4 separate regions of the Homo sapiens genome follow, and all the other regions are reported to be linked to region 3. Evidence: microRNA targets listed by miRTarBase, many of them from high-throughput screens and not tested one by one. Region 3 holds a microRNA gene; each other region holds the end of a gene's coding sequence.
What was found. The annotated mature microRNA hsa-miR-19b-3p reads UGUGCAAAUCCAUGCAAAACUGA and lies in region 3 at 3,679-3,701, opposite strand. An mRNA with a match to its seed (bases 2 to 7 or 8) in the 3' UTR can be bound and repressed. Matches are read on the target gene's strand: a 7mer-m8 pairs with bases 2 to 8, a 7mer-A1 pairs with bases 2 to 7 and ends in A, and an 8mer does both.

Region 1: the mRNA of CD46 is a reported target of hsa-miR-19b-3p. Seed matches in the 3' UTR shown: 7mer-A1 at 5,873-5,879.
Region 2: the mRNA of CD2AP is a reported target of hsa-miR-19b-3p. The part of its 3' UTR that is shown has no 7-base or 8-base seed match.
Region 4: miRTarBase lists TGOLN2 as a target of hsa-miR-19b-3p. Seed matches in the 3' UTR shown: 7mer-m8 at 943-949, 7mer-m8 at 2,241-2,247 and 7mer-A1 at 3,056-3,062.

What each region holds. Positions count from the first base shown.
Region 1 is chr1:207,788,998-207,796,610 of GRCh38, forward strand. CD46 (CD46 molecule) reads left to right here. Exons shown (of 13, transcript NM_172351.3): 12 at 1,256-1,348; 13 at 4,522-6,507. The coding sequence ends at 1,307. Among named protein-coding and RNA genes, the nearest start is that of MIR29C, 9.1 kb to the right of the region's middle.
Region 2 is chr6:47,622,996-47,630,607 of GRCh38, reverse strand. It overlaps CD2AP (CD2 associated protein), which reads right to left. Exons shown (of 18, transcript NM_012120.3): 18 at 3,345-6,422. The coding sequence ends at 6,381. Among named protein-coding and RNA genes, the nearest start is that of ADGRF4, 72 kb to the left of the region's middle.
Region 3 is chr13:91,347,333-91,354,945 of GRCh38, reverse strand. It overlaps MIR19B1 (microRNA 19b-1), which reads right to left and starts at 3,754; the gene lies at 3,668-3,754. MIR17HG (miR-17-92a-1 cluster host gene) reads right to left here and starts at 7,259. Exons shown (of 3, transcript NR_197388.1): 1 at 6,987-7,259; 2 at 5,176-5,248; 3 at 369-4,790. MIR17 (microRNA 17) reads right to left here and starts at 4,341; the gene lies at 4,258-4,341. MIR18A (microRNA 18a) reads right to left here and starts at 4,195; the gene lies at 4,125-4,195. It also overlaps MIR19A, MIR20A and MIR92A1. RefSeq lists enhancers at 5,126-5,673, 5,674-6,221 and silencers at 5,771-6,760, 6,811-7,590.
Region 4 is chr2:85,315,846-85,323,458 of GRCh38, reverse strand. TGOLN2 (trans-golgi network protein 2) reads left to right here. Exons shown (of 4, transcript NM_006464.4): 4 at 718-5,432. The coding sequence ends at 723. Among named protein-coding and RNA genes, the nearest start is that of TGOLN2, 8.3 kb to the left of the region's middle.

The DNA.
Region 1 (7,613 bases), not on the chromosome of region 3:
CCTTTCTTTACTAATTCTTCTACCATACTTTTTAGTCTTGGAAGCCACAGCCCTGTCTTTGCTACTGCTTCAGTCCTGTATTGCATGGCATGACTGTGCTTCTGAACAACAGATGCCTTTTGTTTACATAAATATTTAAGTAATGGTTTTTTTTAAATGCATGATTATTTTTTAACTCTAGTTAAGCATCCCTGGATAAGTGACAGTTTGGCTAAGTTAGTGAAAGTTATTTACATAATTTATATATTTATTACCTGTGACAAATAGTTTTTCCTTTTTTCCATTAATGGTATTTATTATTTTGTATAACCTAAACTGACTTTTAATGTTACATTAATATTGACTGACCCAATTACTTTATTAAAAATAGTGGTCAGTTCAGGTAATTGGGGCATATAGTGACATGGGGCAAAAAAAGGATCAAATTAACTTAAATGTTTTTCTAGTTGGCCCTTAAATTCTTGAGCATTTAACCCTTCAAAAATTTTTGAGCAACTACAAAAATGTTTTGTAATTAGTTTAGAAAGCATCCTTACAAAATTAGATCCATCTCAGAAATATGAGACGCCATGTAATACAAAGTTTTGCAACGATGTCTCCTCAGGTTGAAAACAGATGTGCCACAGGAAGACACTTCTTAATGTAAAAGTCCAGAGACATCTGAAAATACATGATGTCATAAAGTTGATTTCTAGATAATATTACATGGATTTGATACATACTCAATGTATTCCCTCAAAATTGAGGGTGTTAGGCCGGGTTTGGTGGCTCACGCCTGTAATCCCAGCAACTTTGTGAGGCCGAGGCAGGCCGATGGCTTGAGCTCAGGAGTTTGAGATCAGCCTGGGCAACATAGTGAGATGCTGTGTCTTGAAAAAAAAAAAAAAAAAAAAAAAAAAAATCAAGAGTGCTAGAGACCGGTACCATTTCTCCCCAACAATCTGTTATTCCTTGAAAACATTTTGACATGAATCACTTCATGCAAAATGGCTTCAAAGATAAACATATTAAACAGGAATTTCCAGTCTGTTTATCTGCTGGATGATCTATATGACTTCAAAGTTCAAGTAGCTTCTAGCACAAAATTCATGTTTCCAGTCCTTCAGTGAGAATGAGAAAGTCTTAAGTTATGAACCTAATTCTCAGCTTTCCTGCTACTCTCTTACACTGGATTTTATCCCACTTGTTATGCTACTCGTTTCTTTTTGGTTTGAAGTCACTATTTTATTCAGCCGTTTTCTCTTCCTCTGTTCAGCACATACCTAACTGATGAGACCCACAGAGAAGTAAAATTTACTTCTCTCTGAGAAGGAGAGATGAGAGAAAGGTTTGCTTTTATCATTAAAAGGTATCTGTTTTCTGTTGTTTATTTTCAGATGTCCTTTCTTTTGAAAAATATTCAGTGGATATATAGATATCAATAACCTGAGCAAAGAGATATTGGCAGTAAATATCAAAGAGGAAATTTACATTCCTGTTCCCTTTGCTAAATTATTGATGTGTTCTTATACCATTCCCTTTGAAAACATAATGTGTACTGACAGGCTTTGACGTAGGCTTTAAATAGAGTTATGTTCCCCTAGTCCTTTTATCAGACGATCTCACTTCTACCTTGTAAAACAGCTGTGAATCCAAAAGTAAGAATTTGTGAGCCAACTGGGAAATAACCACAGAATCAACTCATTTTAAGTGCAAGGAGGAAAAATGCCCTTTTATAGAAACCAAAATATATTTTACTTAGTTTTGTAAATTTATTCAATTCCAACGTATAAATAACTCTGTAAAGACATTTTATCAGTTTCCCTGGGCTGGGATATTTTTAGCATATCAAAGGAAAACAAAAAAGTCCTCAGATTTTGAAAAGTAATGGATTGCATTGCCTTAAACCCTTGGACCCTGTCCACCTTCTGTCTTTGAACTGAACTGGAATTATTCCTCTGTTTGTGCTAGAATGTGTGTCCGCAGAGCTGGGAAGAGATGGAGATACATATCCCACCTCTTATAATGTGAGGCCCTAACCTAGGTTATAATTAAAAGTTTGGGAGCAGGATCTACAAAGGCCAGCTGGAAGGACAATTTCTTAGTAAAAGCAAAGTGATGTCTTTGGTTACAGGAGGAAAGGGAAAGACAAAACATACCAACCAGAATTGGCGGTCTGGGCCTACCCAGTCCTATATACAGTAGTTCCTTCTTATCCACGGGGGATACATTCCAAAACCTCTAGTGGTTGCCTGAAACCTGGGAGAGTACTAAACCTTATATATACTGTTTTCTCTTAAGCATGTATACCTATGATCATTCAATTTATAAATTAGGCACAGTAGGAGATTAACAGCAATAACTAATAACTAATAATATCAATTATAAAAATATGCCAGCATCACTACTCTTGTGCTCTGAGGCCACTAAGTAAAATAAGGGTTACCTAACCACAGGTACTGTGATACCGTGACAGTCAATCTGATAACCAAGACAGCTATTGAGTAACAGGCACATAGTGTCCACAGCATGGGTATGCTGGACGAAGGGATGATTTATATCCCGGGAGGGATGGAGTGGGACAGTGTGAGATTTCATCATGATACTCAGAATGGCACACAATCTAAAACGTAGTTCTGTAATTTTCCATTTAATATTTTTGACCGTATTTGACTATGGGTAACTGAAACCGTGCAAAGTGAAACCGTGGATAAGGGAAGCCTACTATATCTTCTTAGTCTCTTAGGACACTTTTGAGACTAAAGCCAACTAGGAAAATAGTTTTTAGACTCTCTCTGAGCTTCAGGGTATCTGTAAACATTTGAAGATAATTTAATGAATGCTGTAGTTAATATTTTGCCATCTTCAAAATAGCTTCATTGTTATATCCAATAAATGTTTCTTTAAATTTATGTTAATGCCTTTTATCTTTGGCATAGATTGGATTTTTATTTAAAACTTTATTTAAAGAAAGAGATTCTACTACTATGGGAAAAAAATATTTACTTAGAAAAATATAGTGGTGGCCAGTCCTGGTGGCTCACACCTATAATCCCAGCACTTTGGGAGGCCGAGGCGGGCGGATCACTTAAGGTTTGAGACCAGGTTGGCCAAAATGGTGAAACCCTGTTTCTACTAAAAATACAAACATTAGCTGGGCATGGTGGTGCACACCTGTAATCCTAGCTACTCAGGAGGCTGAGGCACAAGAATTGCTTGAACCTGGGAGGAGGAGGTTGCAAGTGAGCCAAGATCACACCACACTGCACTCCAGCCTGGGTGACAGAGCAAGACTCTGTCTCAAAGGAAAAAAAATAAAGAAAAGAAAAGAAAAATATAGTGGTCTTGGAGAATTCAGTGACAGGCCAAACCATTAAGTCTGTCATCACAACAGTCCTTAGGGAACTGCAATATTATAAGTATAGTAATGACGCAGTAGAGAACCATAATGATGGCCTCCCCGGCAAAGAAGAACCAACCCGTTTACGCCTGAGGTTGCAATTTTTTGAATTTTTGCAGTCAGACCCTGGCGATGACCTTGAGCAGTAGGAGATAAATTCCACATGCTTAGCGTTCCAGTAATGGAACACTAGGCATAAATGGGTTATTAAAGTATCCAGAATTAACATGCTTAGCTGTGACATTGGAAAGGCAATGTGTTTGCTGTGGCACACATACTAGTAAATAATGACTGGTCCGAATTTGGTTTTCGTTTGTCTATTAAAGTCAATTTACTAAGGCAGGGAGGGCCCAGAGCTGTGCTGTCCAGTTCAATAGCCATGCGTGACTGCTAAGGACTTCCAAAGTGGCTAGTCCAATGTCAGGTATGCTGCAAGTGTCAAACACACACTGGATTTCAAAGACTAAGCCAAAAAAATGTAAAATACATCTCAATATTTTGGTTATACTCGGTTAAAGAAAATAAAATTATTTTTGCCTTTTTATGTTTTTAAAAGTGGCTTCTGGAAAATTTTAAATTACATGTATGACTGGCATCATCTGTCTTTGGCCAGCACTAGACTAGAATAATAGGTTTTATAAAGATGTCTATTGTTATACTAAAAGTGTGACGTAAACTTTAGTTATTTAGGAGACTCTTAGTGGAATACATGATTTTCTTGACAGTGAGGGGTAGATGAGGCATCACATACTTGAACAGTTAGAACCACTATCTTTTTAAAGGTTCTGTGCCAGAGCTACAGCTTTAAAATGGAGGGATCAGGAAAGCATGCGTTTGTCTCCAGTCTTTCCCATTGGCCCTACATCAAAATGAGGACATAGTTACTAAGTACTTTGTGTGCTACTGCTCTATTTCTTGTTTTGGAGGGGATCAAAAATATAAGACAGGGATAAAGGAAGGTTTTTTTTACAGTGAGACCAGTTGAACATTTGAAATTATTTTAAAAGAATAATTTATTTCCCAGGTTGGTGGCTCATTACTATATTTTTTTAATTGTTCATTTTCTGAATAGGCTTCTGGAATTTAATTTCTGTACTTAATTATATTTATCTTTGACATGATCTTTATACCTTGGTTTGCAGGAAAGCAGATGGTGGAGCTGAATATGCCACTTACCAGACTAAATCAACCACTCCAGCAGAGCAGAGAGGCTGAATAGATTCCACAACCTGGTTTGCCAGTTCATCTTTTGACTCTATTAAAATCTTCAATAGTTGTTATTCTGTAGTTTCACTCTCATGAGTGCAACTGTGGCTTAGCTAATATTGCAATGTGGCTTGAATGTAGGTAGCATCCTTTGATGCTTCTTTGAAACTTGTATGAATTTGGGTATGAACAGATTGCCTGCTTTCCCTTAAATAACACTTAGATTTATTGGACCAGTCAGCACAGCATGCCTGGTTGTATTAAAGCAGGGATATGCTGTATTTTATAAAATTGGCAAAATTAGAGAAATATAGTTCACAATGAAATTATATTTTCTTTGTAAAGAAAGTGGCTTGAAATCTTTTTTGTTCAAAGATTAATGCCAACTCTTAAGATTATTCTTTCACCAACTATAGAATGTATTTTATATATCGTTCATTGTAAAAAGCCCTTAAAAATATGTGTATACTACTTTGGCTCTTGTGCATAAAAACAAGAACACTGAAAATTGGGAATATGCACAAACTTGGCTTCTTTAACCAAGAATATTATTGGAAAATTCTCTAAAAGTTAATAGGGTAAATTCTCTATTTTTTGTAATGTGTTCGGTGATTTCAGAAAGCTAGAAAGTGTATGTGTGGCATTTGTTTTCACTTTTTAAAACATCCCTAACTGATCGAATATATCAGTAATTTCAGAATCAGATGCATCCTTTCATAAGAAGTGAGAGGACTCTGACAGCCATAACAGGAGTGCCACTTCATGGTGCGAAGTGAACACTGTAGTCTTGTTGTTTTCCCAAAGAGAACTCCGTATGTTCTCTTAGGTTGAGTAACCCACTCTGAATTCTGGTTACATGTGTTTTTCTCTCCCTCCTTAAATAAAGAGAGGGGTTAAACATGCCCTCTAAAAGTAGGTGGTTTTGAAGAGAATAAATTCATCAGATAACCTCAAGTCACATGAGAATCTTAGTCCATTTACATTGCCTTGGCTAGTAAAAGCCATCTATGTATATGTCTTACCTCATCTCCTAAAAGGCAGAGTACAAAGTAAGCCATGTATCTCAGGAAGGTAACTTCATTTTGTCTATTTGCTGTTGATTGTACCAAGGGATGGAAGAAGTAAATATAGCTCAGGTAGCACTTTATACTCAGGCAGATCTCAGCCCTCTACTGAGTCCCTTAGCCAAGCAGTTTCTTTCAAAGAAGCCAGCAGGCGAAAAGCAGGGACTGCCACTGCATTTCATATCACACTGTTAAAAGTTGTGTTTTGAAATTTTATGTTTAGTTGCACAAATTGGGCCAAAGAAACATTGCCTTGAGGAAGATATGATTGGAAAATCAAGAGTGTAGAAGAATAAATACTGTTTTACTGTCCAAAGACATGTTTATAGTGCTCTGTAAATGTTCCTTTCCTTTGTAGTCTCTGGCAAGATGCTTTAGGAAGATAAAAGTTTGAGGAGAACAAACAGGAATTCTGAATTAAGCACAGAGTTGAAGTTTATACCCGTTTCACATGCTTTTCAAGAATGTCGCAATTACTAAGAAGCAGATAATGGTGTTTTTTAGAAACCTAATTGAAGTATATTCAACCAAATACTTTAATGTATAAAATAAATATTATACAATATACTTGTATAGCAGTTTCTGCTTCACATTTGATTTTTTCAAATTTAATATTTATATTAGAGATCTATATATGTATAAATATGTATTTTGTCAAATTTGTTACTTAAATATATAGAGACCAGTTTTCTCTGGAAGTTTGTTTAAATGACAGAAGCGTATATGAATTCAAGAAAATTTAAGCTGCAAAAATGTATTTGCTATAAAATGAGAAGTCTCACTGATAGAGGTTCTTTATTGCTCATTTTTTAAAAAATGGACTCTTGAAATCTGTTAAAATAAAATTGTACATTTGGAGATGTTTCATGATGATGTGTTTATTTCTAGTGGGTTTTGTCTCAAATTGAAGTATGTTTCTAATTGGGCCCATCTTCTAACCATTCCACTCCCACAGCCATTCCTCCTGTCCCTCCTAGCTCAGACCCTTAAGTATCCCCAGGCTTCTCCACTCCCAACCCATCACATAGATACTGCACAGATATCCAGTGACATCACATTACCTACTGGATGAAGTCCACATTTCTTAGCCTGATACTTGAAGACCTTTTACAATTAAATCCCAACTTTCTTCCCCAAGCATTTTCTATTGCACTTCTTCAAATAACCTACTCTCAGTCAAGCCTGACCATTTCCCCTGTGCTTTCTGCTGTATTCCTAGTTCATTGTTGCTTGAAACACCTACTGTCCTGTTGAGATCCTATGCATCTTCCAAGGCCCAGCTCAGATATTACCCTTCATGAAACTGTGCCTGATTTCTGCCCAGCTCTTATAGTCTTTATTATTACCTAACCTTGGGATAGCCACATTTAAGCATCTATATATACGTGTCCAGTAGAAGATATATCTTCTGCATCCTATGATCGCATATGTAGAGCTAAATAAAAACCCAAGTCCTAACAAAGTATAAAATTTATGTAACTAGTAGGATTTGGTTGTTTCTGCAAAAATCATTGTTGCTCTCTCTGCAGATTTGAATTAAGTCGGATTGCTAAATTTCTCAGAGCAGGCTTCAGTGTTTCTCAACCATGGCTGCACATTGCAATCACCGGGGGATATTTACAGACACCTGGGTCCCACCCCTAGAGATTTCTAGTGTAATTGATCTGGGATGTGGTTTGGGTGTAGGGATTTCCAAGCGTCCTAAATGATTCCAAAGTGCAGCTAAGGTTGAAAACCCATGCATTAGTAAATCTCAAGCCCCACAGTAAATTTTTCTATATAAACTTGTAAAGATAGAAGTTAAAGGCTTATATTTATAGAAGAAAATTATGGCTTTCTTAATTCAGCCTATTAAATCAGAAAATTTCATTGAAGACTTGAATTAAGGTTTTGTTGTTTGGCTAACTGAACAAGGCTAGCTGTTGTTTAGAAATACAGAAGCATTGTCTCAAATAAACATAAAA
Region 2 (7,612 bases), not on the chromosome of region 3:
ACAATATAAACATTAGCTATGTTTGACGCGATGCCTACTTTTAAAGGTAAGTTTACTATAAAATGTAGGGTAAACTGACCATCTAAAGTCCAGTATATAAAATTTGTTAAATACATTTTAAGAGCCTAATGCAGTCCCTGGAAGAATGTCTGTTTTATAGCAATCGGCATGATAGTGGTTAGTCTTGAGGAGATATTATACTTGAATATTTGAGGAAGGAAGAAAAGGTAGGAGACGGTAAAGACAAGGGGTAGAGAGAATACCTCCCCTTTTGTCACTTATTCATCCACTAAACATTTACTGATTGTCTACTACATGCTAAAGACCATACTAGGTCATTTTAGGTCAGTGGTTCTCAAAGTGTGGTCCACAAGGTCAAAACAACTTTCATGATAATACGAAGATGCTAGTTGCTTTTCTCATTGTGTTGAGATTTGCACTGCTAGTGTAAACGCAGTGGTGACGGTGACTAGAACTGCTAGGCACGCATCAAGACAGTGGTACCATTTTGTTACTGTGTTCTTCACCACCATACCCAGTACAGGAAACCCCTTCCTTTTATCAAAGTGAACATTTTATTTTTCTCTTATAATTTCATATCATGCATTGAGATTGATAAATTTCCTGATATGAAATCTCTCCCTGTGAGATTTGGTTTATGATGATCAGGTTTAAAGTTATGCTGGATTCATAAAATAAATTGGGTGGCTTTCCATCTTTTTCTACAGTTTGAGTAGCTTAAAGACCAATTAAAACACAGCCATCATCTGGCCTTGCTGTCTTTCTCAGTTGTAGAGCCTTAAATACGTTTCAAATTCACTTACGGTGTGTTTAGTCAATTAAAAATTTCAACTTCTTCTTTGAGTCAGTATTCATTCTTTAAAGTTCCATAACTTAACAGATGTCTTGGTGTTACATATCATGCCATTTTTTTCCTCCTGGGACATAAAGGATTTTAATCAAGGTTTTCTTCTGGACAACTTTTTTTTTGTTATATAAAACACAGGTATCCATAAAGATACTTGTGTCTGATTACTCACGTTTCCATGGTGTCAGTTATTTGATGAATAGCACAGCAAGGAAGAAGAGCTATAAATTGTTAGCCAAAATATTCTCTCATTACATCTGTCTTCCCTAAGAGCATGTCTCCTTCTCCTTGGTTTTCAGACTTCCAATTATTAGGGCTTACAGTTAGTGAGGCTTCTCTTTCAGCTCCACATTCCCCAGCTATCCTTCTGTACAGGATTTGAGCCTACAATGATCAGATGAGCCTTTCAGAGAAATCTGCATCTGGCACAAAGTCTGGGAAAGTTTATATCAGATTTCAGGTTGCTCCCTCCAAAACATTTGGAAGGTATTTTTACTATTATAAATTGTAGCTTCCTTATTTCATCTGAAAAGCAATGTTTTTATCTTAAATCTGCTTTTTAATCTATTAATATCAAATCTTTTTCATTGTACTTACTGTTTTTAATGAGTCTCAAGGGAGGAAAAGACAGTAAAAATGTCATCACTCCGTCACATCGTTTACATTCTGTTCAGTTAATGTTTAGGAATATCTCTAAAAATCCACTCTACCATGAAAAGTTAACATGTGATTTTATTAAAGAATTGTTACTCATTGGGCATGGTGGCTAATGCCTGTAATCCAAGCACTCTGGGAGGCCGAGGGGAGCAGCGCGGATTGCTTTAACTCAGGAGTTCAAGACCAGCCCAGGCAACATGGTGAAACCCAGTATCAAAAACAAAACAAACAAAAAAAAATTAGGTGGGTGTGGTGGCATGCACCTGTAGTCCCAACTACTCAAGAGGCTGATGCAGGAGGATTGCTGGAGCCCAGGAGGCAGAGGTTGTAGTTAGCTGAGGTCGCACCACGGCACTCTAGCCAGGGTAATAGAGAAGGACCCTGACTGGAATAAAAAAAAAAAAAAGTTTCTCAATGCACTTAAAATGTAGTTTTACTTTCAATAACTTTATTCACACACTTTTAAAGGGAACTGAAATGTAGTCAGTAAGAAACACTTGGAACCTGATAGGAAATAATACCATCCAATAGTTGCAAAATAGCCACACCTTTCATGACAGAAAAAAACTATTGACTCTATACAAAAAATACTGATATCTATTTGTGAATTTATTTTCCTTACATGGAAGAGCAGATTCACAAAAATGGTGTCAGTGGTAAAATAAATGCAACAGGATTCAGAAAAAAAAATTTTAACACCCAGACCCAGTCTCTCTTGCATCTTGAGAATACAGCCTAATAAATCCAGGTGAGTTAAACTGCTACCTGCTTTTATTTCCTAGAACTGGGCTAAATTTGCAAATTGTATTTTCAGACAAAACCATCTGCACTCTTCAAACACAAATTCTATAGTCCAAAACTTTTACCATTATATGCCTCCAAAGTTTTTTGTCTAGTGCTTCTAAAAGCCAGTAAGAACTAGAAATTTTTTAAATAAGATTTTAAAAATCTTATGACACACTAATTTTCCACATTGCTTTATAGTGGTGTCCTATTCCTTCTGTTTCAAATCTTCCAGCACACTACTAGAATCTCTAAAGCTATATGTGATCTATGTTCAGCAAAAGTATGTGGACCTTAATGTTCTCCTGATTTCATCTTGTTTTCTGTTATTTATCAGGACTTTTTCGGTTGTGAGTTCAGAAACCCAACAAGCTTATGAGCAAGTCTGTGCTTATAGAACCAAGCAATAGACAGCTGAGACTCAGCAACAGCTACAATCAGTTTCAAAGTCCTTCCAGATTCTGTTTCCATCTATCTATGCTCTACTAAATTTTGTTTTTCAAATCAGCTTTTTCCAGATGACAGAAAAACAGAACTGTGGAGAGCTCCCATGCTGAGATTAGCTCTTTTTGTTTCCAATTTTAAAAATTTCATTCTTTGATTAACTCAGTAACTCAGTTTGAGCCAAGTACTCTCTCAAGGGATTTCCTGGGTGGGGTGATCAAGGAGGTAGAATCTGTAAGATGGTAGCAGCTCCCCTTTGAACAATATAATACAAATGAAAGGAGCATCTCCCCAAAGAAAAGGATACTATACCGTATTCAGGGGGAAAGGATACACAATGCCTCCTTTTTCTTAACCTTATCCATCTAATTTTTATCATATCCATCACTGTAAAATGCTTTTTAAAAAGGTAAAACAGCAGCCTCCATTTTTTTTTTAAAAAAAACCTACTCTATGCCAAGCACTCTACAAAGCCATTTAGATAAACTATTTCAAATTCTCCCCATAATCCTGTAAAGTAGAAATTACTGTCTCAGTTTCAGATGAAAAACCAGACTCAGAAAAGTTCAGTAAAAGTCATACGGGTCTAGAATTTTTAATGTTTTTGGTTTACTATTTATTCTTGTATTTGGAAATTGAAGTAATATAATTTTCATCATACTCTGAAATACACAAATGCTAAAGTTAACAAAAAATAACCAATAAAGACTGACACGACTGGCAATAAAATCCTTTAATTTTTCTTTTTGAGAGAGAAGCATGCTTTTAAATACAGCACCTGTAAACAAGTTAGTGAAGTATATACTATTTTGAGATTCCCCCTCTCAATTTTTTTTTTGGAATGTTAGGTTACAACATCAACTGCATTACGTAACAGTTATTGAAAGCAAGTCAGGGTAAAATTTTATAGCCAAAAATATTCATAGCAGCAACTTTTAAAATATGATTTTATTAAATCAAGTCATTGCACTTGGTCATTTTATTGCTACAGCAAAACAAGGCCTTTACATTATAATACTTCTCATTTCTGATTTAACTGATTGTCTCATTCTGCTCATACATTTCAAGTTTAAATGCAAGCATAAAATGTTTATCAACAAATCTAGAGAGCACTTGGATTTTTAATTTTTCTGTGATCACAGTAAGGAGCATAAAAAAGAGTATCTTCTGTTACACAAGGCCTGTTCTCTCTTTACATCTTCAGACTTAAATTCTGTAGAAGGTAACAGCTTTGTATTAAGACAGAAGCTTAGTGGTCACAAACAAAAAATAACACTGAAATACAATTCAGAAATTAATGATACTGTGTGTCTCAAAGAATACCTGAACTATACATTCACTAATAATTTGGCAATGAGATTCCATGCTGTTCAACTTTTGTCTTTTATACTCACACGTAGAAAAAAAATTCATGATTTACCCCAAGGTTATTATTAAATATCATTTTGTGATATGAACTTTAGTAATAGAAATTAATAACATTTCCCATACCAACAGAAAGTAAGTTGCTAGAATAAAGGAATCATTTTTCCCATCAGGCCTGGGTTTGTTTGGTTTTCTTTACTATTTTATCAAGGACAGAAAGGTAAAAGTATTTCAGTTACTTTTCTATTCTGACTGAGGAGGACACAAGCAAAAACTTTAAATACATTTCCATGCTCATAAGCATCTTGATTTCATGTACTATTGAGAAAATGACCAACAAAAACTTTAAGAACAGCCTGAAATCTGCTGGAAACTTCCCTCATCCCATTATTAGGATGACCAGGGATCACTTCAATAGATTTTCAGGTGAGAAAGCTGGAGGATAATTTCTAGGATTACAATATTTTTGTTTTACCTAAGGTTGGTCATTAAAAGAAAGTAAGATTTAATTTATTTAACAAGAAGAAAATAATTCATTTGACTAGTCATTTAAACCTATTCTATTTAACAGAAGAGGGAACAATTTTGTTCAGTAGTGACCTCATTAGAAGAGCCCATTTTGAAGAGTTCTAATGTATATTCTCAATATATAATTAGCATTCCCCCAAACCCCTAATGTAAGTTGTAAATTAAACATTATGTTGTTTACTGGCATTTCTATTTTCTACTTCAGTTCTCTTTATTTGAAACATGACAAAATTTCATTTACATAAGATTTCTATATTATAAGATTAAAATTTAAAGGAAAAATATTGGTTTGGTGGTTTAAAACTAAAAAAAATGGAAGCATGATCATTGGTACTCAAAAATCTGACACTCATTTGCGATATAATAAAGCATAAAACAATTTTTTGCAAATAAAAAATTTCAAATTTTAAAAATTTAAATAAACCCACTTGTGTTTTAGATGTTACCTACAGACAGAACATTTTAAAGCATTCAACTGTTCATAAGTAACTCTGAAGAAACAACTAATTCATCCATTCTGTGAAAATGTATTTTAAATATGTTCAACTATATTTGGTTTTAAATAAGCTGTAATGTTATATTTTATGACATACTAACATTCTTTATAAAGTTTGTACCTAAATAATAGTTCAAAATATCTCCATGAGTTAGTTTGGTCTATTAGGTAAATTATACATCGTAAAACCTGAGTATTTACAAGTTAACTTGTCAAAATAGGAAACCTCACACTGAAGTTCTGAAAAGCTTTGGGTTTTGTTTTCCTATTACCATTATTAAAAGTCAGAAGGAGAAACATGAAGAACTAAGTGACAAGATAATGAGAAATATTTGAGGCTGTAAAATAAGCAGAAAAGTACAGCAACAGGCTGGTGTTTACATATTTTATATGTGCTGTAGTTTCTAGGCACAAGTTAAGGGTTAAATTAACAGTTTTAGATTCTTCAGACCTAACAAATTTAAAATACAGTTCATATTTCCCCAAATGTTTAACAATCCAACATATTTTAACTAAGTTCCTTTTATGACTCCTATAGTGCAAGCAACATAAAATATTCTAAAAGTTGATGAAATTATTTTGATTATTCATTAGTTCTTACTATATGCATGGGTGAGTAATCTGGTTTATATAGCTAGGAAACTCCTATTTCATCACCCAAAATATAAACAGCATTGCAGACAAACAGGCACAACAGTGTAACCTTCGGTAAGAGGATAAAAGTAAAAATATATATATATATATACACACACACACACACACACACACACACACACACACACACACAGAGTTTATATCCCTTATGCATTATGGAAAAAGTAGTGACTATAGTTACTAAAAGGCTAATCTGTCCCTCTCAAATAGTATATCTTAACAGATTACTTGTAAATATATCACCATATTTATAGTATAGATCTCTTTAAAAATAATACAAGTTTCAATAAAAAAACTACTGTGCACATTCTTATTTATATTCAGTAGTATTTTCAAGCAAACAATTTTTTAAAAAGTGTTTGCAATCCCAGCACAGTTAAGAAATAAGGCCTCTTTTTCTTCATATTGGCAAAACAAAATATATATATAAATTCACCCTCACTCTACTTTTCTATAGATATTACACTTCATTTGCTCATATTTATCACAACAACAGAATTCACAATTTTTAAGTAACAAGTCAGCTGAAGTTCATAGCGTTGCTTCTGAATCCCTGGAACATTATGAACACCAGGTCCACACCACTCAAGAAGACAGGACAGCTTTTTTCAGCTTCTCTATTTCCATCTAAAACAAAAAACATAAATTGAGCAAACATAAAATATCCTTAGTTTAGTAGTTTATTTTACTCTATGTCATTAAGATGTGATCATACTTTCAAGCCTTCAGACTTTTTTTCCAGACCTAAAATCCAGTTTCCCATGCTATAATTTGGTTGAATAAAGTTTCAACAGTACAATGCAAGTTCCTAAATGGCAGTTACAATAAGAAAAAAGCAATTATAGCCCTTTCAGCCAGAACAAATGTTAAGTCATGTGAGCATTTAAAATTAAAGCTGTAAAAAAATCAGTCAGTCCTACAAAGAACAAAAGAATCCTTGAAACCAAATTAAGAAATGTACATGTATCTATAATTAAACAAAGGATACATAAACAACAGTAAAAAGAATAGAGACCTGTTTAGTTCCATGTTTTTCACTAATTATACTTAATTATAATTATAATTATTGTTAAATCACTTGACTTGGTTTCAATTTACTTATCTGTAACCAGTATATACTACATTAAATATCTTAAAGCCCAGGAATATATCTAAGATTCAGTCAAGGTGCTTGATATAGTTCCACCTTTAGGCAGAAGGAAATTCATAACTTAAGGAATTTATGAAGAAGGAGATCATTTCATTAAGTTTGCACAATAACTACACAGAGTTATTCAATACTGCCATATTCAAATGGCTAGGTTGAGGCTCAAAGACATTAAACAGGATGCCAATGTTCCACACTAACAAGTGACACAGGACTTGTCATGGTAAGATTTAGGGCTTTAAAGCCCATGGTTTTTATATTGATTTCTCTTCTCAATTCTATAACATTTTGATCATCTTTAACCTTTCCCTGCATGAGGAAATATATAGGCCTTGCCTTATCCTGATGGCATCACCTTCCTCAAGAGTGCACATAAACAATACATGCTTTGGCTAGCTTCGACAAACAGCACATTATTAAACGATTAGGACTTTGCCATAGTCAAAAAGTATAATTTTTATATGTTCACAATCTCCTAAAGGATTATAACTACTCAAGAACCGTTTATTAATTTCAGGATCTTCCTTGATATGATTCTGTAAATATTATGATGATTAGCTCAATGTTTTAGCAGCACTGGACTACAACAAGCCTGTCTTCAATTTGGATTGAGACGATAGCTTTCATTGTCAGCCCGATCTGTTATTAAAGTCTTTATTCCAAAGATACA
Region 3 (7,613 bases):
CTCCCACCTTACTAACGTGTATAATATAAACAAAATGAAGAATGCTTCAGACTTACCAAGATTTAAGGAAACAAGTGTGATCTGAGAACTTGTCAGATTCCATAAAAATACTAGGCAGAAGATAACCTTTTAAAATACTGACATATTTTAATTCAGAGTCCATTTACCACCTTTCCATTCTGCTTGAAAATGAACTTCTGATCTCATATGTAAAGTAAGAATACAAATACATATTTCACAGGTAATGAAGATTAAATAAGAAAATCCAGATAAACTTTGGTCCTTGTCTCCACTTCCCCAATTAATTAATAAGTAACCTTTAGACCATCTGTAGTGACAAAACAAAAACGCCATAAAAACTGCGATAATAACCTTGAAGTTTTTATTTCAATATTCTCGTTCTGGACAATTTCTTAACAGCTTTAAAATGCAGTATTTTATTTATTAACATTAAATGCGCTAGAACTCAAACAGCCAGACCAAACTGTAAATACAGAACTAGGCACATCTCAATGTTCTGTCTCTGTGTTTACATTACTGGATAAGAAAATTAAGCATTCTTCAACTTTTCTATGGGTCTTAAAATTCATGGAATATGTGCATTTTCCTAATGACCCTTTAAAACTAATACCACATATGAAATGTTATCAAGGCAGAAAACTACATTAATTTCGACTTTAATAAGATGTAACTCATACAACCACTAAGCTAAAGAATAATCTGAAGTCTCAAGTGGGCATGATGATCTTATTTCCATCAAACACTAAAAACTGGCTCTGTGCAGATTGAGCTCTCCTTACCTTTACTGCTCAGTTGAGAGGCTCTTAATTCTCTAAAGTTAGACAAACTATGCAAAACTGTCAATTAAACAGTGTATCATTAAATACATAATAAACTTTAATGTGACACTGAGTTGTTCTCCAGGAAGTTGCAGGCTGCATTTTGTCAGGAGTCAGTGTGTCTTCAAACTACAGGAGAAAACCCAAGTCTGGCTTGTAGTTAGACAGGTCTGCCTGTAAAATGAAGATCTCAAAAGTTTTCAGTAAAATCACCAACACTTTGCAAGCAGCTTTAAAAAGAATTCCTAAAATGTTAAGTGCTTTCTTTCCAAATATAGGCTAAAAATAGAAAGTTGTACATGCAAACGCCAAAAAAAAAAAAAAAAGTTGACCCATTTTTTCCCCTCCAAATAGTTAAGGCTATTTATTAAACCTAAAGCAACATGACCTCTTAAGTCTCAAGCAACTTCAAGGTTAAAGCATTTTAAGAACAAGGGTCAAAGTTGTTTTTTCTCAGGTCAGAGATGAGGCCATTATCAACTTGCTCACTCATCTGAATTTCAAAATGGCTAAATTAACAATGTGAATCTTTTTATACAATACTTACATGGCTTTTTGTTGGCATGTTAGCATGCCTAAGAAAATCTTAATAGAACCAAGAATGTAAAATTTGCCTCACATTCTAAAGCCAGAAACAAATCAAAAGCAATTCCTATTAAACCCTATAGAACCACAGATCACTACCAAACCCACAACAAAACATACACATTTATTAACTTGTTTATTAGATTTAAATCTCAGTTCAAGCCCAATTAAGTTCTGAACACAATGAATACTAGTTTCAGTCTCTAGGGAGAAAAGCCATTTAAGTCTTTGTTATTAAAACATATTTGACTTACATTTTAGAATATTTAAGAAATCATCCAGCAGGCTTCCTATCACACTGTTCCAGTTTTTAAAAAAATTGCTAGTGTATCTCCCCAAAAGCACACCATTTTGCAAACTACCAGACCATGCTGTATTATGAAACTTTTTTTTTTTTTTTTTTTTTTTTTTTGCGTTTAAGTCTTGGTCTTGCGCCCAGGCTGGAGTGCAGTGGCAGGATCTCAGCTCACTGAAACCTCCACCTCCCAGGTTCAGGTGATTCTCCTGCCTCAGCCTCCAGAGTAGCTGGGATTACAGGTGCACGCCACTGCACCCGGCTAATTTTTTATATTTTTAGTAGAGACAGCGTTTCACCATGTCGGCCAGGTTGGTCTCGAACTCCTGACCTCAGGTAATCCGTCTGCCTCAGCCTCCCCAAGTGCTAGGATTATAGGTGTGAGCCACCGTGTCCAGCCGGAACTTTTTAAGCATAGTTTGAAAGCCACGTTTGTCACTAAATAACCAAAAAGACACAATTATTAGGTCTCCTTCAATTCAAAAAGCTTAAGAACTCTGCTAATGTACAATTTGATTTCCATTTTATAAATCACTGTTCATTTCACATCCTGAAAATTTATGTTTTCATCAACTCCAGAATGATAGAATTCTTACCTTTCTATTCAGGAATCCAAGGCTAAGTTCCTTAAATTTCTTAAAGAACACATTAGAGGTGAAAACTTTTGTTAGACTTCAGACAATATTTTTAAAAGCTGATTTCTAGATTTATTGGGTGGTCTAACCTAGTGTTATGGAAGTTTATTTCTTATTACTAAGATAGCCTCTTTTACTCCAAAATACAATGACATTTCTCAAAACTTATCTTTCAAACATCAAGTTTGCCTGTACTTCAGCTTGGGCCCAATTTTACCACTTGGTCCTTTTAAATCTATTATTCAGGTATCCCACATTATTCTACACAAATACACATAGGCTAGAGACAAAAACACATGAAGAAAAGAGAGAAGGCAGAAATGCTGGGTAAAACACTAACTGCCACTTCTTAGTTTCCACTTCAGTGACTTTAAGTCAAATAAGCCTGGAATCAACTATCACTGTTGCCAAAGTCTGGCTTACGTAGGGAGTAGGGAACATAAATGTTAACTACAGACTTAGAAATAAATGAATATCTGAATCTCACCCCACCGCTGCACTCTTGGCATTTGGGAAGAGTGTACACATACATTTAACTGTTACTCTATTTAGCATTTGTTCTTTTTCTAACTCCCATTTTTTTAAGTTGCAGATGCTAAAAGCAGTCTGAGGACCTTGGTCATTTATAGCTTATAAATCACTGACAATCAGAAAGAAAAACTAGTATACAAGCATTTAACAGTTACACTTCAGTTACTCATGTATTGGTAAACTGGTACTTGCTTAATAGAAACAAATTGTACCCCAACCCTAAATTCCATGCTTAAAAAAACTCATCTTTACACATTGCTTTAAACAGAGCGGCATTCTCTCTAAATTTAAATACTTGAGTAATATATGAGCAACATAAATTAACTTTTAGATTAAGTAAAATATCCTGGAATAACACTAACTCCAAAGAAAGCAAAAAGATATACTCTAACTTTACAGATGATCATCAGGTATACAGTATGTTTAGTCATATCGCAATACTTAACAGCCAAATAAATCTAACAACAAAAAATATAGCCAGAATTTATACTGCCAAATCTGACACGCAACCCCAAAAGTGAAATGTTTTTGAATGAAAACAAGACAAGATGTATTTACACAAAAAGTTACACATTTTCTTTAATATTTCATGTATCTTGTACATTTAACAGTGGAAGTCGAAATCTTCAGTAATATTTAATTTTCAAAATCTTCTGGTCACAATCCCCACCAAACTCAACAGGCCGGGACAAGTGCAATACCATACAGAAACACAGCATTGCAACCGATCCCAACCTGTGTAGAAAGGGGTTTGAGTTTCCCTTACTTTTCTACAGACTTTTCACTACCACAGTCAGTTTTGCATGGATTTGCACAGCAGAATATCACACAGCTGGATGCAAACCTGCAAAACTAACCATAGAACAGTGTTCAGTAACAGGACAGTTTGATTGGGCGACAGGCCGAAGCTGGAGTTCTACAGCTAGCAGTACTTTAAGTGCTCATAATGCAGTAGATAACTAAACACTACCTGCACTATAAGCACTTTAGTGCTACAGAAGCTGTCACATCAGATAGACCAGGCAGATTCTACATCGACACAATAAAAGTACACAAAATTAGTAAAAATCATTCATTTGAAGGAAATAGCAGGCCACCATCAGTTTTGCATAGATTTGCACAACTACATTCTTCTTGTAGTGCAACTATGCAAAACTAACAGAGGACTGCAAACAAAAACTATTAAAACACCTATATACTTGCTTGGCTTGAATTATTGGATGAATACATAACTTCTTATGCCAGAAGGAGCACTTAGGGCAGTAGATGCTAATCTACTTCACTATCTGCACTAGATGCACCTTAGAACAAAAAGCACTCAACATCAGCAGGCCCTGCACTTTAAAGCCCAACTTGGCTTCCCGAGGCAGCTGTCACCATAATGCTACAAGTGCCTTCACTGCAGTAGATGCACATATCACTACCTGCACTGTAAGCACTTTGACATTATTCTGACTGGTCACAATCTTCAGTTTTACAAGGTGATGTTCTCTTTTTTCCTGCTAAATTTGAAATAGATAATTAGAATTAACACCTCAAACTCTAACAACTATAAACCATACAAATTCAGCATAATCCCTAATGGGGAAGAAAAAATTAGTTTAATTATCTCAAAGATATGAGGTCCATTTAGACACGTATTTATGCCTTAAGAATTCTTTACAGAAGGCAATCATAACCAACCATCCAACTAGCACTGGAAGTGGTGGCTCTTCCAATGGCTGGCCTCTCCCAAATGGATTGACACATAGAGAAAAAAAACAAAACAAAATGAGACTGCAAATAAATGAGAACTAATTTTGGAACATTTAAAGGCAATTTAGTCCATGTGTACCTTTTAGAGGAAATCTTCACATCCACGTGGCAAAACATTTTCCTCCTCTTCTGGCTTCCACTTAGCAAATACTTGTTGAAATGATTAACAAAATTACTGTTCAGACTACACTTCAAGTGTTATCAGTCAATTGTAGCAGAACGTAAATATCCTGTTTAAATCTATCATCTCAGGTTATATCTACTTTATCACCCAACTTAAAAGAGGGTCTAAAATTATATTTCGTAAACTGCATAAGCCAGTTTCCAAAAATGTACAGGAATATTTACACTGTAATTTTACTACCTTAAAATTAGCAAATCCGTACTTAATGAGTTAGTTTTTCAGAAAAGGTACATTGTCTAAAGAAAGAAACACCTACTTTTACTCTCTAAGAAACCAATCCTATTTATTCAACTTTAATAGCAAGAAAAATTTGTTTTTAAGAAAAGTTCAAGAAAATCAGAATACACTTACCCATTCCAGAAAACTTCCTTTTCAGCAAGTATTCTCAGAAAAGCTACTGGTGCAGTTAGGTCCACGTGTATGACTGGAATAGGGAAAAATAAGGAAAAAAAAGATAAAACATTATTTGCTCAAAATTACTACCACCGTCCAAATCTATATTTGCTATTTTCCAACCTCCTAACAGCAATTAATTCCATCCATTTGTGAGAGTAAGAGTCGAGCAATACTAGCAGGATTTAAAAGCCCAATAATTTACAGTTGAAAAATACGTAAGAGAATAAAGTTGAAAAATCCTTAGCTATCAGATACATGTCTAAATAAGCTCCTAAAATACTTGATTATGATCAGCAGCAATCACCGACTCCACTGTACAGCTCCAGTAAAAGGAAAAAAAAAAAGCAGCCCACAGACTATTCTTCACCACCCCTCCCCCAATCAAGACCTCGTGGCTGCAAGCCGGGATAAAGAGTTGTTTCTCCAACTGCTGTGGTCCTGATGGCATGCCGTTAATTTTCTCTTTTGGTGATATTGCAACGACGAGCCTGCCTTTTTCAGTTCCTTTTCCCTTTGCTGCAGTTTAGGAACAGAAGACCGGGCAGGAACACCCGAGACTGCAAAGTGCCCGCCACGCTCATGGAGCCCGGGCCGGCAGCACATGTCGCACAAGGGGGAGCGCGGCCCTGCGATTCTCCGCGTAGCCGCCAGGGGGCGGCGGGTCAGAGTCAGGCCCCGCCGGACGCGGCAACCCCCCCAACCCGTTTCCCGGCGGCAGCCGCGCGGCGACCGGCGGCGCCGAGGCCCGAGTGCGGCGGGGACGCGGGCGCGCCGCCCCTCCTTTGTGTCCCCCAGCCCCCCCGAGCCCGGCCCAGAGGGGCGGGGGCTCCGCGGCCGCGGTGCCCGTCGCACGCGGCCCGAGGCCTAAGCCGGGAACAATCGGCGGCGGCGCGCAGTCGCCGCCATGTCCCCCGCCCTCACCCCCGTGCAGCCCGCCCCGCAGGAACATGGCGGCGGGGACGCCGCTCCCGCCGAGCCGGGCTGGCCCTCCCGCGCCACACTCCCAGCAAGCGGCCGGGCGCAGGCGGCTCCACGCCGCGGCTGAGGCCGACTGCGGCCTCCTCCGAGGGCCACGGCGGGGAAGTTGCGGGCCCCGCCCCGAGGCTGCCCACGCGGGCTAACAAAGCCCACGCGGAGCGGGGGTGGCGCCCAGGCCGCGCCGATCTCGGCGCCCCTCCGCCCACCCTCGCGCGTACAAAGTTTGGGGAACCGCGGGCTCCCGCCCACGCCACGCCGCCCGCTGGCGCGCAGGTACCTCGTGGGCGCGCCCCCTCCCGGCCCGCGGCCTGCCCCATGTGCCGCCGCCGCCGCCGCTTTGTTCTGGAGGCGCTTTAACTCTCGCCCTCGGGAGAAACTTTCCTACCCAGAGACCCCACGCCCCGCGCGCGCCCCGGGCCCCGGAGAAGGCACGGGCCTCGCACGTCCTCTCCCCGAGGGGCCATTGTGTTCGCCGTCCGCCCACCCGCCTTCGGGTCGGCCCAGGCAGGGTCTGCGCGGGTCCCGGGCGCGGCCGCCACGCGCACGCCGCCCCCTCCCACCCTCCCGCCCCGGCCCTGCCCCCCTCCGCCGGCCCGCGGGCGAGCGAGGGGGCAGCCAGATGCGGCTGCCACACGCCGGGGCGGCCAACGGCCGAGACCCGCCCCGGCCACGCCGCCGCCGCCACGCTGCCCCGGGCCAGTCCGCCCCGGGCCGCTCCGCCCCGCCCGCCAGACCCGGGCCGCACACAACAGGTTTCCCTCCGTCGCCGGAGGGGCGGGCAGACTCACCAGGAGGAGTAGCCGCCACCATCTTCGGCTGGCCGGCCGCGGGCTCCTGCTCCCGCCTCCCCGCCCGCCTGCGCTTTACTACGACCGGAGGCCCCAGGCCGGGGGTGCGGCCGGCCGGCCCGCCCCGCGAGGAGAGCTTCGCGGAGGAGCGCGAGCCCCGGCGGCGCTGCGGTAGTCGTCCCCACCCCCTCGGCCTCGCCCGAGGGCGCGAAGTGGCGCGAAGGCGCAGGTCGGGCGGCGGCGGCGGCACCTCGAAGGACCATGTGGGTGAATGAAGGGCGGCGGCTCCCGCCTCAACGTAAATACGGACAAGCCCCACTCCCTCATTAGCATAAAAAACAAAGTACTTCCGACCTCCCCGCCCGCCCGCCAATCACCGCAGGCCCCGCCCACGGCGGCTCGTTCTTGGCGGCCGGGAGAGCGGGAGCCGGGAGCCGCTGGCGGCGCCGCGCAGCCTTCCCCGGGCCGCGCTCCCCCGTGGCCCGCCCACCGCCGCCAGCCTCGCGGAGCGCCTCGCCCGAACACCTCGCGCCACGCCTCCGGCACGCCCTCCGTTAACAAGCTCTGCGCGCGTGCAGACCCCCGCGCGCCGCACACCCTCCTGGAAGCGCACGCTTCCCGGGGCTT
Region 4 (7,613 bases), not on the chromosome of region 3:
GAGTAGGTGGGATTACAGGCGCCCACCACCACGCCCAGCTAATTTTTAGATTTTTAGTAGAGATGGGGTTTCACCCTTTTGGCCAGGCTGGTCTTGAACTGCTGACCTCAAATGATCCACCCACCTCAGCCTCCCAGAGTGCTGGGATTACAGGCGTGAGCCACCACACATGGCTTATGATTTTTAAAAAAATACACATGTGGCTGGGCATAGTGGTTCACGCCTGTAATCCCAACAGTTTGGGAGGCAGATCACCTGAGGTCAGGAGTTCTAGATCAGTCTGGCCAACATGGTGAAATACCATCTCTACTAAAAATACAAAAATTAGCTGGGCATGGTAATCCCAGCTACTACTGAGGAAGCCGAGGTGGGAGAATCGCTTGAACTTCGGAGGCAGAGGTTGCAGTGAGCCAAGATCATGCCACTGCACTCCAGCCTGGGCAACAGAGCAAGACTCCGTCTCAAAAAAGAAGAAAACCACCACCAACAAAAAACACATGTAAATAATTCACAACAGTACAGAACAGTATGAAGCAGAAGCCAGGATTCCTCTCTCTCCATCAAGTGTATATCTTTCTAGTGTTAGGTTTCATTTCAAACTTTAAAAATCATTTTGTGTGCTATTTTAATTAATTGCTGTTTCTGTGGTGGTGGGTCAGTATGTCTTAATTCTGAATGTTTTCCCTGCACCTCCTAAAAGATCTTTTTTCCCCTAAGTCCTAACAGAATGGTATATTCCTCTGGAAAAAGATGAACGTCACCAATGGATTGTGCTGCTCTCGTTTCAGCTTTGATTTTTTTGTCCTTGAGAACCTTGTCCTCCCTGCTGATTTGTTTCTAAATCAAAAGAAATGAAGAAAAAAGTACTGTGACCTGAGAGACACCCTCCTCTAGAATTTAGTGGCGGGTCTGGGCTGGCAGAGGTAGGGGGCTGCTTTGGGCTTTGCACCTGCACTTTGGTGACATTGTTCTTCTGTGTTCCCTTTATTTATGCTGGTGGCTTCCATCCGTTCCTCCTCTGAGGGTGAGTGGAGGGGTATATGGAAACACGGCTATGACCAAAGGGAGATCCCAGCCTGGGCAGGCTGCGCTGCTGACCACCCTCCCTGGGGCCCGGGCTCTGTAGGAAAGTTGGTCCTTGACTGTGGCATTGCACTCTGCACTGTTTCTCTCTGCAGACCTAGGGGAAAACTGCAGGTGGAAGTGCTTTTCTACTAAGGCCTCTTACTTTGGGGGGGATGTGCCCTACAGAAGACATAGAAGATGGGGAAATGCCAATGGGCAAAGAGCTACTTTGAATACATAATTCTCTTCAAAGACTTCAGCAGCAAACCAAAACAGCAGGTTAAAAAAAAAGATGCTTTTTTGGGTGCAAGTCTAACCTGTCTAGCATGAGATCTTCTTGATTTTCTGATTATTTTATGTAGCTTGAGACAAAGTGAATCAACTTCCACTTAGTTGTACCGAGCATAAAACAGAACTTGGGCTTCCTGGCAGTGAGGCCACTGTCCCATCACAGATTTTTAAAATAAATATGATTTGAAGTAGTGTGATCTTTCACACAATCATACTCAGTAGGAACTTTTTGAAATAGGGCAAGTTTATGTTTCATGCGAGAAAACATGAAGGAGGGTTTTGGTTTTGGTCTGCAGTTTTTCCAAAGGGCTTTTATGAGATACATTTCCCACAAAGTCCATTTTGCCTTTGTTGCCTAAAACAGACAAAATAGACTTAGATTTATTAATAGAAACTATACTCTCTGCCAATTTTACCTCAGTGTATTTAATGGTCCTTTAATCTGATATAAGATGCCAAGGGTATTTGATAAAAATTCTTCTTCCATGCCATGTCAGGAGTTAATACAAATGAAGAAATTCCGTGGGTTCCCCTGGGATAAGTGAGGGTAGTGTCTTGGACAACACTATTGTTTGAAGGTTTATCTTTTCTAATCATGCTCTACCGCATTGTAGAGAGCCTAAAGAGAGTTGTTTCTGAGCTGATCTCAGGGAAATACAAATAACTTGGGAGATGAGGGAAATAAGATGAATTCTGTGCTGTCAAGGCAGTAAGTCTGAAGAAAGGACCATGCTTCTTATATTATCTTCCACCTTGCTTAAAACAGCCCATAGCTTTGAGTTGACATTTTCATTCTTGGCGGATAGCCTACTTTATGAAGGTAAGGAATGAACTCCTACCCTTCTTGGGTCATTCTCTGTACTGATGCGTTAGTCTTATAATACTTTGCACCAACCTGAGGAATCTTCTAGGCTTCTCTAGCATCCCCTAAGACTGTGGCTATTTCACGTCTCTCTCCCTGCCTGCCTTCCTTTTCCCTTCCTTTCCCCTCCTCATGTTTTCTGGTTGTGCCCATCTGTACCAGCTCCTTTCCATCCACCTTCGTATGCACCCAGATTTTTCTGTTCCCATCTGTCCTATTTGTTATTCATCCCGCTGCTCAACTTCTCCAGTATGTTGCTTCCCTTAAGTTGCCATTCATTCTCTTCATGACTTTTACTAACTCACTTCGGTCTCTGTCTGTCAACTAAACTTTTCTAAAGGTTACCAGTTATCCAATCACCAAATCCATGGCTTTTTCTCAAAGCTTAGTCTTGTCCTTGGCAGAACTGGACACTATTGACCATCCAAATGGAAATTCCCCTTTCTTGGTGTCTCTGACAAATGGTCCTTTGCCTTATCTTGTGCTGGTGGTGAAGAGGCCCTCAAAGCCAGGCCTCTCTATTCCTTTGACTGTCTCCTCAGCCATTAACCCATTCTTCATCCTCGGAGTGAGTGATTCCCAAGTCTTTGTCTTGGCTTAATCCCTAAAGAACCCAGTTCTGCTGGTATCGAATAGTTCAGCTTGGTTGTCATTGAAAGGAATTTCTCTCTTCTGTCCATCAGCCTGTCCCTCCCAACTGTCTAGGACAGTCTTCGGTCACCTAAATTCCTAACTGCAGACTTTTGCCCTTTTTCTCTCTCATCACCAAAGTCCCATCCATTTTTTTTTAATAAAAGATCCTCAGCTACAGTCTTTCCATTTTCCTTGCTTCTCTTATTGCACACCCCCAGCCCATTTTGCTTCTCTCTTGGATTTTGTTTTTTCAGATCCACATTTATTGGGTTTCCTGTCCAGCTTCTTGGAAAGGAGCTCACTCTTGGAAAGACTGATCTTTCCAAAATATTTTCCCTGGTCTGAAGCTTTGGTGTGAACTTCTCAAGGCTTAGAGAATCCAGTTACAGACCTTTTGGGGTTCAGGATGCTATAGATTGACACCCTCCTGCCTGTTTTTCTCTGCATCCCAACCTGGCCAAGGCCCCTCCTGTGGGGTGCCCATCTGTGCCTTTATTCCGGCTGTGCCCTCGACTTTCCAGCTTCCCATGTTTCTTTGGTTAGGTTTCTCTCCCTTCCTTCTTTCTCCTTCCCCAATCCGCCTGTTTCGTCAGGGCCCAGTTTGTTTCCTCATACACCTTCCTCACTACCCCACCCCACATGGTTGACTCTTTCCCTCAGCTCCACCAGCTCTTCATCATGCCACTCATTTCAGAACTTGAGCAAAACAGGGCAGTCAGGATCTGATGTCTTTCTGGTCTCCCTAAGAAAACTAAGCTCTTGAGGGACAGCCCTTGGCAATGCTTTCCTATCTGCTGATCATGGTGACCTTCCTTAGGACTTCCAGAGTTCAGTTCCTTCTGGCAGAGAGGTTTTCTTTCTCCATGCCATATGGATGTGACTCAAATGAGGGGTCCCACAGCTTTTCCTGGCTACCACTTGCTGTGACCTTATACATGTTGGGGTTTGCTCTTAAAGAGGAGAGCAGGAAGAAAGGTTGGTTTCAGAAACCAAGAGGGTCGGCAGTGGACGCGTACATTTTGTCACGGAGTCCACAGAGCTGAGCTTTTGAGCAGACTCTGAGAAGTATCATTGCTTGTGTTGAAAGAATACAACAGGATTTAAGTTTCTCTTTAGAAATTGCACTGAAGAAAGGCCGGGCGCGGTGGCTCCCCCTGTAATCCCAGCGCTTTGGGAGGCCGAGGCGGGGGGATCACGAGGTCAAGAGATCGAGACCATCCTGGCCAACATGGTGAAACCCCGTCTCTAATAAAAATACAAAAATTAGCCGGGCATGGTGACGTGCACCTGTAGTCCCAGCTACTAGATAGGCTGAGGCAGGAGAATTGCTTGAATCCGGGAGGCGGAGGTTGCAGTGAGCCGAGATCGTGCCACTGAACTCCAACCTGCCAATAGAGCGAGACTCCGTCTCAAAAAAAAAAAAAAAAAAGAAAGAAATAGCATTGAAGAAAATACCGCACATCAGAGGAAAGCTTATTTTCTGCATGGTGTCTTTTCAAAGATAGAATATTTGAAGCATGTTTTCTAGCGATTGTGTGGATGAGGGTGAGCTGGCTGAGGCATCGCTCAAGCTGGGGGGTGGTGTGTAAGAAGCACGTGGAGCCACAAGAGGCACCTCCTATAGTCAGCTAAGGGCTTCCCTTTCTGCGCCCAGCTTTTGGGTGAAGGGTGATTTCTATTAGACACATCTGTGCTTCAGTCATAGATGTTAATAGAGGAAGCAGTTTTCCTGCTGCAGATTCCTGAATAGAGTTGCTGAAAGAGTCTACTTCTGGACTCAGGGGAAGTTGAAGGCCAGTCTGTGTAGAAAGGCTGAGGCAACGGGGAAAGACCTGACAGCTAGTTACATACGCTCTGACATAGTACTCCCATGATGGCTTCCAGTGACACATGTGCTGATAGAATTCTAAACCTCTGGAATTTCCCTGCTGGCGACTTCTATGGCCGTTGACTGTACAGGGTAACCTGATGCCAGATGCTATGGGCGTGATGAGAACTAGAGCATTGCAGCATGGAGGAAACTGTGAGGCACCAGATCCTGTGCTTCTGCAGGCCATTTTCTGAAAACCCCTGTTAGGAAGGTTGGATTTGGCGTGACTTGCTTGAGCAAGAGTCCTGGGGAGAGATTTTGAGGTTTAATTTAACGGTATATCCAGAGCTAACAGTGACTCAACTCGTCTAGTTCTGCAAGTCAGATGTACACTTAGAGTCTCTCTGTGAAGGGTTTGGGTCTGAGCTGTATAGTATGTCAAACTGCCAGTAAGCCAGCCCCTCACCCTCTGATAGATATTCCTTTAATGCACCAGACTTCATGTTTGATAAATGATTAATGGTTGAAATTGTTTCTCTTCTTTTGTGTTTTCCCAGTTAATAGATGGTCACTGTTTCCACAATGTTTTATACTTTCAGCTTTTTGTAACTTAACTATAATTACTTAATTTTATTTTTTTAAAGCTTGTTGTGGTCTAATGAGAAGTATTTTTCAGTGCATAATGTTTTTCTGAGCTTCTGTAAATGCCATCCCAATGTGGTTTGGTTTTGTTGAACAGAAACCAAAATAAATTTCAAAATGTTAAAGCAATGGATTTAATACATTTATTTATTTATTTATTTTATTTTATTTTTGAGACAGAGTCTTGCTCTGTCACCAGGCTGGAGTGCAGTGGTATGATCTTGGCTCACTGCAACCTCCGCCTCCCAGGTTCAAGCGATTCTCCTGCCTCAGCCTCCCGAGTAGCTGGGACTACAGGTGCGTGCCACCACGCCCAGCTAATTTTTGCATTTTTAGTGGAGACGGGGTTTCACCATGTTGGCCAGGATGGTCTCAATCTCTTCTTCGTGATCCGCCCACTTTGGCCTCCCAAAGTGCTGGGATTACAGGTGTAAGCCACCACGCTCGGCCAATAAATTTATTAATATTATATTAAGATGAACTCCAATAAGACCTTTGGCATGTCAGTTTAACATAAGTGAAAGGTCCTTTTTATGCCTTTTGAGCCTTCCTTCACCTTCCATCCAACACACACATGTACCAGTAAATTGCAGATGCCATTTCTGGGCTTTGCACACTTTCTCTGGCTTTCCATGTTCTGCTCCTGACCAACTCTCTTGCCACCTGACTCCTCCCAGCCTGGCTGCCTGCTTTCAGTAGCTGGGCCATTGCTGGGAACACTCTGTTGCCTCCCTGTGCTGTCCTCTGCTGTGCCATTGTGTGGAATGCCCTGCAGCCTGCCTCAACACAATGAAGTAATCTTACCAGTCGATGCCCTGACTCCTGACGTCACCCTTCCCTGCCCTGTGTCACCTTTCCCTGCATATTTGGAGGATAAGGCTTGATTGAGGCTCGGGTACCGAGCTCCCTGAAGGTGCCTTGATGCTGGCACATCGAGAACCAGATGCCACCCCGATGATAAGGAAGACAGACCCGGGACTTCCATATGAATTGGGTATGATCGTCTGACATGCACCCTACTAACTGATGGATCCTGCTGTTACCCCAAAGCTCCAGAACCACACTGGCCAGACACAGGCATTTCCTGTCCCCTGAAGAGCCACTGAACCCAGCACAAAAGAGATCTAGAGCTCTCCAAACCTATGGAATGGCAACCAAAACCATGCCCAGGTTTTGAGTTAAGCCTCATTAGTCTCCCTTTTCCCTTGACAGTGTAGAACTGTGCAGCGTAGCACTAAGTGAATGAGAGCAGAAGCCTCAGGACAGAACTGAACCCACCAGCTTGAGCTGACAACACTGCCAGGGGTTCTGTCCACAGATGGAATATTCGCTTTGATCACTGAGTTAGGAGGCATGGGTGAGGGATGCAGAGCGCCGCTCGTCATGAGACATCAAGCTATCCAAGTCAATATCCTATTAGTAGGGATGGCATATTATAGAAGGTGGAAAGATCTCACCTGCCCCAGCTGGAAACAGTGATTCCATTGCCCCAGATTCGGAATTGTGATTTAAACTAGGCCTCTCTTCAGGCATCAGAACCAAATAAGAGTGGTTTATATGTGCAAGGAACTAATGCCCCAGCTATTGGGCAAATTCCTCTGACTCCTCCCTGATGGAACTAATTCTTCTGTGCCCAGATCCTAGAGACAAGATCCTTAAGGTCTGAGTACAAGTTCCACTTCAGGATGGCGCTGCTGCACAGCAGGGCACCTTGCAGGGCCCCTACCAGTCCACAGGTGAAGATACCCTGGCCTAGGAGGCAAGAGCAGAGGCCCCTGAGTGTGCACCCAGGCAGGCCCAGGGGAGGGTGGGGCCTTGGTGCTCTTCCCTCCACATGAGGGCCACCCAGAGCTGGCTCCAATCAGACAGGGGCCACAGCCTGCCCAGGCAGCCCTGCTCAGGGGATGGGAGGCTGCAGGGGACAGCAGGGCCTGAGGGCAGGAACAGAGGACGTTGGGCGACAGGGGCCCAGGGTCTCAGGTCCTGACAACATGGGGCAGTGAGTATACCTGTCAGAGGTTGGTGATGGGGCTCTGGGCCTTCAAGGCCATCACACGAGGGTGCAGGCGGCCCAGGTCATGGTCAGCCCTGTAGCAGACACCTCGGGGAGCAGCCAGAACTGGTTGGTGAGTGGGGATCCTGCAGTCACACTCTCCACCTGAGGGCAGAAAGGGTGGGGCAGGCATGTGAGATCCTGGCTCCCCTCCCTCTTCCACTCTTTCCCATTCACTGACTCCGGGGTTGGGTGCCCTGTCCTTCCCTGGGGCTCATGTCTTGGGGCCCAATTCCCCTGTCTCAAGGAAAGGGCAG